2 separate regions of the Homo sapiens genome follow, and region 2 is linked to region 1. Evidence: fine-mapped expression QTL. A gene starts in region 1. The other region holds a variant in brackets. All regions are shown on one strand. Distances are from middle to middle. Region 1 holds the start of TRPM6 (transient receptor potential cation channel subfamily M member 6). Region 2 overlaps TRPM6 (transient receptor potential cation channel subfamily M member 6).

Region 1 (5,382 bases):
GGCCTGAATCAAACCACACTAGACTACTAATGAATATTTTAAAATTTAATTTTCACAGCTACCCTGGGCATAGGTATGTTTGTGCCCAGAATAGTTTTCTTTTTATTTATTTATTTTTTGAGATATGGTCTTACTCTGTTGCCCAGTCTGGAGTGCAGTGGTGCCATCATAGCTCACTGCAGCCCCGACCTCCTGGGCTCAAGCAATCCTCTCACCTCAGCCATCCAAGTAGCTGGCACCACAAGTGTAAGCCACCACGCGTGGCTAATTTTTGTTTTTTTTTTTTGTACAGATGGGGTTTTGCCATGTTGACCAGGCTGGTCTCGAAATCATGAGTTCAAGTGATTCTCCTGCCTCGGCCTCCCTAAATGCTGGGATTACAGGCATGAGCCACCATGCCTGGACAAGAAGTTTTATATACAAGTTTGACAACTGATTAAAGTGCTTGTGAAAGATACAGATTCCTGGGCCCCACCCTATAAATCCTGATACAAGAGATCTGGGTAGGGTGGTTGGAGCCTGGGAATCTGCACTTTTGACAAATGCCTCAGATGTTTCTGATACAGCTTGGGAACCAAAGGCAGCTTGTAAACTAGTACATTCAATGCTTTAAGCACTTCACATTGCCCTTGTATTTCAGGCTCTAAATGCCTTGAAGCTTGATCTGAAAAGAATATATGATCATCCTAACATGTAGGTTTACCAAAGATGGTAAACTAGAAGATGGTAGACTTCTTACAAATCTTGAGTTCCAAATGGCTACTCTTCTTGGTGGGTCTGAAGATTTCTGAGAACTCTCTGACCCAGTCACTGTAAGAGACCTAACAAAGAAATTGTATGGAAGACAGAGATCGAGAAGGATTTACTTGCCTTAGAAGAGCTTTCAGAACCTGTTAACTGTTTACAGATTAACGCTTTAAAGAAGATGGGTTAAGGAGAGGAAAGGAGATTAAATGTGTTTATAGAAGAACAACAAATGCCTAGCACTTAGGGAGGCTGAAGTGGGTGGATTGCTTGAGTTCAGAAGTTCGAGACCAGCCTGGGCAACATGGTGAAACTCCGTATCTACAAAAATTACAAAAATTAGCCAGGTGTAGTGGCTTGCACATGTAGTCCTAGCTACTTGCGGGGGCTGAGGCTGGAGGATTGCTTGAGCCCAGGAGGTGGAGGTTGCAGTGAGCCGACATAGTGCCACTGCACTCCAGCCCGGTGACAGAGCGAGACCCTGGCTCAACAACAACAGCAACAACAACAAAAAGAAAAACAACAAAATGCCAATACACATATGAGAGATTACAATTTTCCAATAAACAAAGAAATGCTTATTAAAACCACATTGAGAAATGAGGGGAAAAAACCTGTAAACTGTCTGCAAATGTGAATTCACCAGGCAAAAATTCATAATAAACTAAATGAGTAGGTGTCCCTAATTTTAAGTCGGTTGTCAGGGATGAATGACTAGCATTGTTAATTACACTTGTAATAATGTGAGCATCATTTTGCCTGTGTGCTTTGTGCCACCTCTGCCAACACCCTGGGATCCACCCCAAATCACTGACCACAACCTTAATCAAGACTGCCTAGGCCGGGCATGGTGGCTCACGCCTGTAATCCTAGCACTCTGGAAGGCTGAGGCATGAAGATCGCTTGAGTCCAGAGTTTGAGACCAGCCTGGGCAACATAGTGAGACCCCATTTCTAAAATAAATAAATAAATAAATAAATAAATAAATAAATAAATAAATAAAATTAGCCAGGCACTGTGGTGTGTGCCTGTAGTCCCAACTACTCTCTGGAGCCTGAAGTGGAAGGATCACTTGAGCCTGGGAGGTCAAGGATGCAGTGAGCCATGATCCTGCCACTGCACTCCAGCCTGGGCAACAGAGCAAGACTCCATCTCTAAAAAAAGAAGAAAGAAAGAAAGAGAGAAAGAAAGAAAGAAAGAAAGAAAGAAAGAAAGAAAGAAAGAAAGAAAGAAAGAGAAGATGCCTATCCAGAGGAATCCACCAAAACAAAACAAAACAAACAAAAAAAATGAAAAAAAAACCAGAAATAACAAAACATTTGTATTGTATGTTACACATGAAGCACATTAAGTGATTTCCTTTGTTCATTGTAACCTTGTGAGGGAACTGGATTTTTGTCCCTATTATTCCCATTGCATAGATAAATAAACTGAGGCTTGACATGCCCAATAAGTCACAGGTAGTAAAAGCAGTGCGTTAGCTTAAATCTCTGATCTCCTCACGCCCCACACTGACTCAACAGTAACAATACATTACTACAAAGGATGTCTGTGATGACAGTGGCCATCCCATTTGATCCTCGTTATTCTTCTTTTATCGAAGGAAACTGAGAGTCACCTTCTTTTCTAGGCAGTTAGGTAACTGAAGCCGAAAGGTATTGTGACAGATCCACTGGGCTGTAAAAGGCAGCGTGTGGAGGTGGAGCCCAGAGTTTCTGCCTCCACAGTTAAAAGCTCAGACAGGGCTTTGGGAGCAGGGCCTGCAAATCAAAGATGAAAGAACAACCTGTCTTGGAGCGCTTGCAGGTAAGCTCAGGCTGCTCGACTGGCGGGGAACAAGGACCTTAGGCGATTCGCTAGATCTGCGCCCCCGGCCTTAGATAGAAGTGGGTGGGGCCAGGGACACTACATCTAACGAGGATCTAGAATAGCTAGGATTTATGAAATACCGGCTTTCAAGTTCTCTGGTCTCCACCCAAAGATGATTATCCTATCTAAGGTAGTGTACGCTACTACAGGGCAGGTCCCGCAGCCCCCGTTTCAAGAGCTGGGATGCGGCCATAGCGGAGGTGGTGTCAGAGCGGAAACCTAGCGGGGGTCGGGGGTTCAGCTCGGGGCGGTGGGAAACACCCCGGGAGAGGAGGCAGCTCTGATTCCGCTCCGGGCCGGAGGGAGAGGAGTTCGGAGGTGGCTTGAGCTGAGAATCCGGAGGAGAGAAGGCGCGTTTTGAGCTGCCACGGGCACAGATCTCAGACCCGGACGCTGACTAGCCGGGGGTCGCGGCTTTCCGAGGCGGCTGGAGAAGTGCCCAGACGGCCGTCCCTCCGCGCCCCTGCGCGTCCCCGTGCGCCCAGTGTTCCCCGTGCAGGAGTCCCGGAGCGATGACAGCGCCGGTTACGGTAAACACCCGCCCCGCCGCAGTCCGCTTCCTTCCCCAACGCGGCGCCGCCCGGACTTGCAACCTCAGGAGTCCCCGCTGGCTCCTCTCCACCGCTGGCATATGGCGCAACAGGAAGTTCTGGGGGCTTGGAGAGGGAGGGTGCTCCTGGCTGTTGGGAGAGCACTGGAGACGCTTGGGAGAGTAGTGGAGATCCTGGTAATTTCTTGGTCTCGCCTATTTTGTCTGGACTTTCTCACACTGTGTATGAAAAATAAGTATAATTGAGCACATTGTATTTCAGGAATAGTCCAGGCAGCTTAGCAAACGTTAGCTCATTTCAGCCTGCTCTGATAAGAACATATGCTCTGGAGCCAGGTAGCCTGAATTAGCATCCCAGCTGCATCACTACCTGTGATTTTGGGCGAGTTAACATCTGTTCTTCGGCTTTCTCATCTGGAAAATGGGATAATACGATTTGTAGTTTCAAGATGAATTGAAATGCTACATGCCATTTGCACTTAGAATAATGCCTGACGTATTTAGCAGGTTGTAAGAGTTTGGGATTCTTAACTATTTCATCCTGGCAGTAATCCTATAAAGTCCAAGTATCCTGTCTCTCCCATCTCCACCGGTTTACAGGTGAGGAAAATGAAACCAAAGGAGAAAAGCAGATTTGAGATTTGAACTCAGGTCAGTGCTTTAAGACACGGAGAACATAAAAAAGAAAAAAAAAAAAGAGAAAAAAAGACACTGAGAACATAGATGTTCTAGTCATACACATCATTTGTGATTATTTGTTCTAGGGAGAAATGATCACCTTTAATTGTTAAAGTGGGAAACGAGTTATTCAATTTCTTTCCCCCTGTATACAGATTTTGATGTTTCACTGTCATCTGCTTTGGGTTCTTACAGGACTGATAAAGCGTTAGCTATTTTGGCCAGACTGGAATCTGGGCTTGACTTTAAGAATCTGGTTGTTTCTTATGTTTCCCACCAGGAGTGGTAACCATCTAGGGTAGGAGTTAGCATGAGTTTTGTTTTTTGGGCCAAAACTGGAGACTAGTACCCTTTGGTAGTGTTAAACTTGTCTTGATAGACAAGGGCATGAATAGCATTTGAGATCATTATACCAGAGGTGAAGGGAAAGAATCGTGCAATATGTTGCAATTTGTCACAAATTTTGGTCTTATCTTGCCTATTTACAATTATCTATCATAGTTAATTTTTTGGATAGGACATCTATGCCAAAACTATCAAGCATTTGGTAAATACTGTGCCTGAAATATGGCTTCTCTCTTTTTCCTTCTTTTTCAAATTTCTCACTTTTTATTTTATTTTATTTTTTTGAGACAGAGTCTCGCTGTGTTGCCCAGACTGGTCTTGAACTCCTGGGCTCAAGCAATCCTCTTTGGCCTCCCAAAGTGCCAAGATTACAGGCCTGAGCCACTGTGCCTGGCCTCACTGTGTTTTAAATCATGAGTTTTCAGTATAAACAGCCCAAATAATCTGAGTGATTTTCATTATACTTCTGGTAGAATCAATACCATGCTGGAACTGAAAGTGACCATCCTACCTATAACTCAGTTATTCCTTTGTGACACATCAGAAGTCTACATGGCAACTATTTTCTGTAAAATCCATCACTGTTAGGTAAGATATTATGATGTGAGTCTCACTAGTGCCTTTTTTCTTTACTTCTTAGTTTTATTGAAGTTTTACGTTCTCATTGTTCAGAATCAATTAATTCCATAGGGTTAATATCTAAAAACAGTAGAACCCTCCATCACTTCCTGCTTTTTAAGAGAAGTAATCATGTTCATCTCTTTTAACTAGTTACTATTTGTCTGTATCTCTAGATATTCCTTATAATTGCTCCTTCTTGGTTTTTGAGGTTTAGTCATCATGCATTGACTTTCCTGCAAGAAATGTGTGGATTTAACTCTTTTCTGTTTTCCTGCCACTACCACTTACATGCATCCTACCTATTCCTTCCATAGATCCTCTGAATATAGTTATCTCATAATTTTTGGTTAGGTCAATATTTAGTTAGGTCAACATTATTATGCCTCCCTACATGCTATTAAAAGCTTTCTTCCTTGTTTTTTTCCAGAGTTGTCTCTCTGTGTTTGCAAAGTTTTCACCAATTTAACCACAAGTTCTTTGTTAGTTGTCTAAATCTTCCCTCAAGATGTCCAATGCAACAGCTATTTGAATCAATTTTATTTCTATCACAGCTTTCTTACCTGCTTTGCCAGTCC
Region 2 (5,382 bases), 25 kb after region 1:
TTTTATCAGAATGATTTAACAAGATCTGAAATTATAAATGTTTCATTTGCATGTTTTATTCCCCAGGAGACTGGTTAAACCCTGAAGCGTGAGTGACAACTGAGGAAAAGGATGTCTTTCGCTGCTATTTTGAAATTGGGTTTTGGGGCTGAAATAATGAGGGCTTCAACCAATTTGGAAAGAGGAAGGAAGGGGTATGATATCACTTCACTTTTCACCTTTCTGATGCACTTTACTTGGAAGGTTACTGTTGAGTTCCTCTAATCCCCTATTTGGCTCCAGGAAGATTTATAAATGTTTTACTCCTTAACTCTTGAGTTTATATAATCTAGAAATTCATTCTGACGTTCCATTTTTTTTTTTTTTTTGAGAGGGAATTTCTCTCTCATTGCCCAGGCTGGAGTGCAGTGGCACGATCTCAGCCCACTGCAACTTCCACCTCCTGGGTTCAAGCGATTCTCTTGCCTCAGCCTCCTGAGTAGCTGGGATTACAGGCGCCCACGACTGCGCGTGGCTAATTTTTTGTATTTTTAGTAGAGACAGGGTTTCATCATGTTGGCCAGGCTGGTCTCGAACTCCTGACCTCAGGTGATCCACCCACCTCAGCCTCCCAAAGTACAGGGATTCAGGCATGAGCCACTGCACCAGGCCTCATTCCAAGGTTCTAAATGCCTTTGCTTAGCAAAGCACTATGTGAAAATGTTAGTAAAATTTCTCAACTACTCAGGAGAAATGGCGTTTTAGGGAATTGTGAATTATTTAGTTGACATTCAATTTTTAGAGATGTTACCAAAAATAAATTACTACCAGCTAAATAGTGCTCACCTTTTACCACCAAAGTGAGATGAAGGTGTAAGGTTACTTTGTGTTCTCTGCCTCCTGGACAGACTATTTAGTGGAAAATCAGTCAACACACTTTCTGGTAGTGTTGGTGGAACAGGAACTTGGTTTTTAGATATTTTTAGCCTGGATGCTGTTTTTCTGAGACTGCCCCTCTCGGATCAAGTGTCAGGTAGGTATCCTTGCAGAATTTGGACAGATAGAAGGCCCTGAGCTGACACTTGAAAGTGGATGGGCTGGCTTTGCACTGATGGATTCCCTGAGCCAACAGATTGATTGATGGTACATCCTGATGTCCATCTACCTGGCACTTTGAAGGGATTCTTGCTTCAAGGGAGGCACTCTGAAGAAAAAATAACAAATGTTGATCTGGAGTCTGAAAATATTGTCTATTTGACCCATTCTAGTGTTGTGAATTCCAAGATAAATAAAATAATGCTCTCTTTTGAAGTGGATTACAATAAGGTTAAGAGAGAGAGAGAGATGGTCCAGTGAATGCAAGTAAACATTGTTAGTGCTGTGATGTGTGTAAGAGAGAATGCAGGAAATCAAAATCGGAGTCAGTTATCAGTTCCACTGAAGAAGTAGTTGTTAGATGATAGATTTTTTTTAAGGTGCAAAAAAGTTGTAGAAAGAAAACAAATGACCTGTTATCTTTGTCTCCCTTTACCTCCAATCATGCAAACTTGTGGATGTTTTTTTAAAAAAAAAAAGGTTGCCGGGCGCGGTGGCTCATGCCTGTAATCCCAGCACTTTGGGAGGCCGAGTTGGGCGGATAACAAGGTCAGGAGTTCGAGACCACCCTGGCTAACACGGTGAAACCCCATCTCTACCAAAAATACAAAAAAAAATTAGCCGGGCGTAGGTGGTGCATGCCTGTAGTCCCAGCTACTCAGGAGGCTGAGGCAGGAGAATGGCGTAAAACCCGGGAGGCGGAGCTCGCAGTGAGCCGAGATCGCGCCATTGCACTCCAGCCTGGGAGACAGAGCGAGACTCCGTCTCAAAAAAAAAGTCACTTTTTTGAAGATTAAGGAACATCTGTGAAATTATGCCTTCTCAGAGAGTACCCCAAGATAATTTATCTGGGAACCCTAAAAAGCCATAAAGTGGAAATACAGTTTGAACATCCCTACTCTGAAAATCTGAAATGTGAAATGCTCTAAAATCTGAAACTTTTTGAGTGCCATAAGCGGGAAATTTCACATCTGACTTCATGTGGCAGGTGGCAGTTGAAATGCAGTTAAAACTTTGTTTCAGTCATGCACAGTGGCTCACGCCTGTAATCCTAGCACTTTGGGAGGCCGAGGCGGGTGGATCACTTGAGGTCAGGAGTTTGAGACCAGCCTGGCCAACATGGTGAAACCCCATCTCTACTAAAAATACAAAAATTAGCTCGATGTGGTGGCAGGAACCTGTAATCCCAGCTACTTGGGAGACTGAGGCAGGAGAATCACTTGAACCTGGGAGGCAGAGGTTGCAGTGAGCCGAGATCGTGCCATTGCACTCCAGTCTGGGCAACGAGAGAAACTCCGTCTCAAAAAAACAAAACAAAACCAAACAAAAAACAAAACAAAACAAAAAAACTTTGTTTCATGCATAAAACTATTTATTTATTTATTTAGAGACAGAGTCCTGTTCTGTCACCCAGGCTGGAGTGCAGTGGCATGATCTCGGCTCACTGCAACCTCTGCCTCCTGGGTTCAAGTGATTCTCATGCCTCAGCCTCCTGAGTAACTGGGACTATAGGCGCCCGACACCACGTCAGCTAATTTTTGTATCTTTAGTAGAGATGGGGTTTTGCCATGTTGTCCAGGCTGGTCTCGAACTCCTGACCTCAAGTGACTTGCTCGCCTTGGCCTCCCAAAGTGCCGGGATTACAGGCGTGAGCCACCACACCCGGACAATTTTATGTATAAATTTTTAAAAAATATTGTGTAAAATTACCTTTTGTCTGTGCATATAAGATGTATATGAAACATAAATGAATTTCACATTCAGACTTGGATCCCTCCCCAAGGTATCTCACTATGTTAGTCTGTGAACATTTCTTTGCAATTCCCCAGCCTGACCTCAGGCCAAAGATTAGATATAAAATCTGATTATGTTTTAGGATGACACAAATTGAGACCAACACACCATTTCCCTTCTTTCTCCTTTGCCTTTCCCTCCCCTAAATTACAACAATTAAAAAGCAAAAAACATCCAGTCGATGAAGACTGCCATGATAGCTGCAGAAATGTCAAAATCCTTACTCTCAACTACCACGACCACAACAAATTTGCTGCTCTAGTGGCAGAAGCTAGCACACTTGGTGTTTGTCCTATCAGAACCAACAAACATTTGGTTCTCTGTTGAACTGAACATGGAGGCCTCTCGGAAGTGTGCTGGAGAGTATATTGCAAAGGAACTATTACGAGGTTGGCAGGGTGGGAAGTAAAGTTCTAAATTGAGAATTATTTGAAACATTTTCAAGCTAAAGGCTGCTTTTTTTTTTTTTTTTTTTTT[C/TTTC]TGGTAGTTTTGAGATAAGATAACCGGAGTTGAAGGAGGAAAGTTTCCACATTCTTGTTATGACACGGGCTTCCTGTTTACACCTTTGGAGGGAAAATAGTATACATGGGTTCCTGAAGTTCTATTTTCAGCATGTTTGTTGCTCATTCAACAATCATTGGGTTAGGCCCTGGGGCAATAGAAATGACTGGCATGGGGCCTATAGGAGTTGGAGTCCAGGGAAGATGTGAGCCTGTAAAGGTCATTAAATCATAGTATGAGAGGAACTGTGAGGGAAATTTGGAGGTCAGGAGGCATTATTCTATGAAAAAAAAAATACATCAAAGTTAAGTTCCCAGACCATTAACCCAAAGCCAGTTTTTACTTTTAATATTGCTAGTAATAATACCTGAGCTTTATTCAGACTTAATAAGTCCCAGGAAGAATTCTAAACCTTTATCTAATCCTTTCAATAGTTCTATGAGGTACTATTATTATCCCCATTTTGATAGACAAACAGGCATGAAGAAATCGAATAATTTGTTCAGGTAGTCCTACTACAAAGCTGCCATTCAGCATTTTGAAAGAAGTGAATGGTTGAGCACAGCTTGCCTATTTTGTCTATACAGGCTTCTACATTAGATACCCTTTTAGCATCTGTTTTTAATAGTTAATTGGCCTTGAACTTGTCCCAGAGGCATGAAAAATACAAAAAATTAAAAAAATAGTTAATTGGTGCACATAAAGTTTAATGATATCAGTTTCTTATCTGTTTCCTCCTTTTTATTCTAACTTCCTTGAGAGCAGGAACTTTGTCTCGTTTGCAATAGAAGTCCCAGCATGCAGCGTGGGGGCCTATTCAAAATATTTGTTGAATGAATTCATAGATTCAGGTATTTTGAAATTCAGAATGAAGAATTCTTTGAGGACATACTGACTTTTTGTAACATGTTTGTCAGTGCTTTGCAAAAATTAGGTATTTAATAAATGTTTGGAGAATGAATAAATGAAATTGTTAACGTTTTTGAATAGGGGACAGGGCTGACTGATTCAAAAAGATAGTGTCATTTCTTTCTTTCTTTCTTTCTTTTTTTTGTGACAAGGTCTCACTCTGTCGCCCAGGCTAGAGTGCAGTGGCACAATCATGGCTCACTGCAGCCTCGACTTCCTTGGGCTTAAGCAATCCTCCCACCTCAGCCTTCTGGGTTGCTGGGAATTATAGGCACATGCCACCATGCACGGCTGTTTTTATTCCTGTATTTTGTAGAGACAGGGTTTCACCATGTTGCCCAGGCTGGTCTGGAAGTCCTGGGCTCAAGTGATCCACCTGCCTCGGCCTCACAAAGTGCTGGGATTACAGGTGTTGGCCACTGCGCTCAGCCGGATTGTGTCATTTCTTATTGAAATATAGATTTTGAATTCCCTGTTCATTTAGTTCCTTTTAAGTTCTGTGATTCTGGGTTGGGTGTGGTGGCTCATGCCTGTTATCCCAGCACTTTGGGAGGCCAAGGCAAGCAGACAACTTGAGTTCAGGAGTTTGAGACCAGTCTGACCAACGTGGTGAAACCCTGTTGCTACTAAAAATACAAAAATTAGCCAGGCATGCTGGTGCATGCCTATCATCCCACCTACTCAGGAGGCTGAGGCAGGAGAATCGCTTGAAACCTAGAGGCAGTGGTTTCAGTGAGCCGAGATTGCGCCAGATTGCAGTGAGCCAGGCTGGAATGCCTGGGCAACAGAGCAAGACTCCGTCTCAAAAAAAATAAAAAAATAAAAATAAATAAATAAATAAATAATTACATTGTATGACTGGGTTTTCCCAAGTTTTTTAGTGTTTTGCCAATTTAGTGAATGTCTTTTAATACATAGAAAATGCTGCTGAGCATGCAAAAAGAATAAGAGAGTAAAATGATTTAAGATGACTCTGGCCTTGATCTGGGAAGTTTTCCTTGTTTATAGGTAAGATTTAAATACACAGGAACCCATCAACTAATCTCTGTTTTTCTCCTTTCTATTTTACTTAAAAAAGTCTGGACTTCCATTATCTACAGTTCTGTT

The links.
Region 2: its variant is fine-mapped to the expression of TRPM6 in whole blood (INTERVAL, PIP above 0.99).

Annotation. Positions count from the first base shown.
Region 1 is chr9:74,884,992-74,890,373 of GRCh38, reverse strand. TRPM6 (transient receptor potential cation channel subfamily M member 6) reads left to right here and starts at 2,453. Exons shown (of 39, transcript NM_017662.5): 1 at 2,453-2,550. The coding sequence starts at 2,518. RefSeq lists an enhancer at 3,067-3,361.
Region 2 is chr9:74,860,060-74,865,441 of GRCh38, reverse strand. The region is part of intron 1 of TRPM6 (transient receptor potential cation channel subfamily M member 6); the gene reads left to right. Among named protein-coding and RNA genes, the nearest start is that of TRPM6, 25 kb to the left of the region's middle. The variant C/TTTC (reference allele first, on the strand shown) is at 3,346.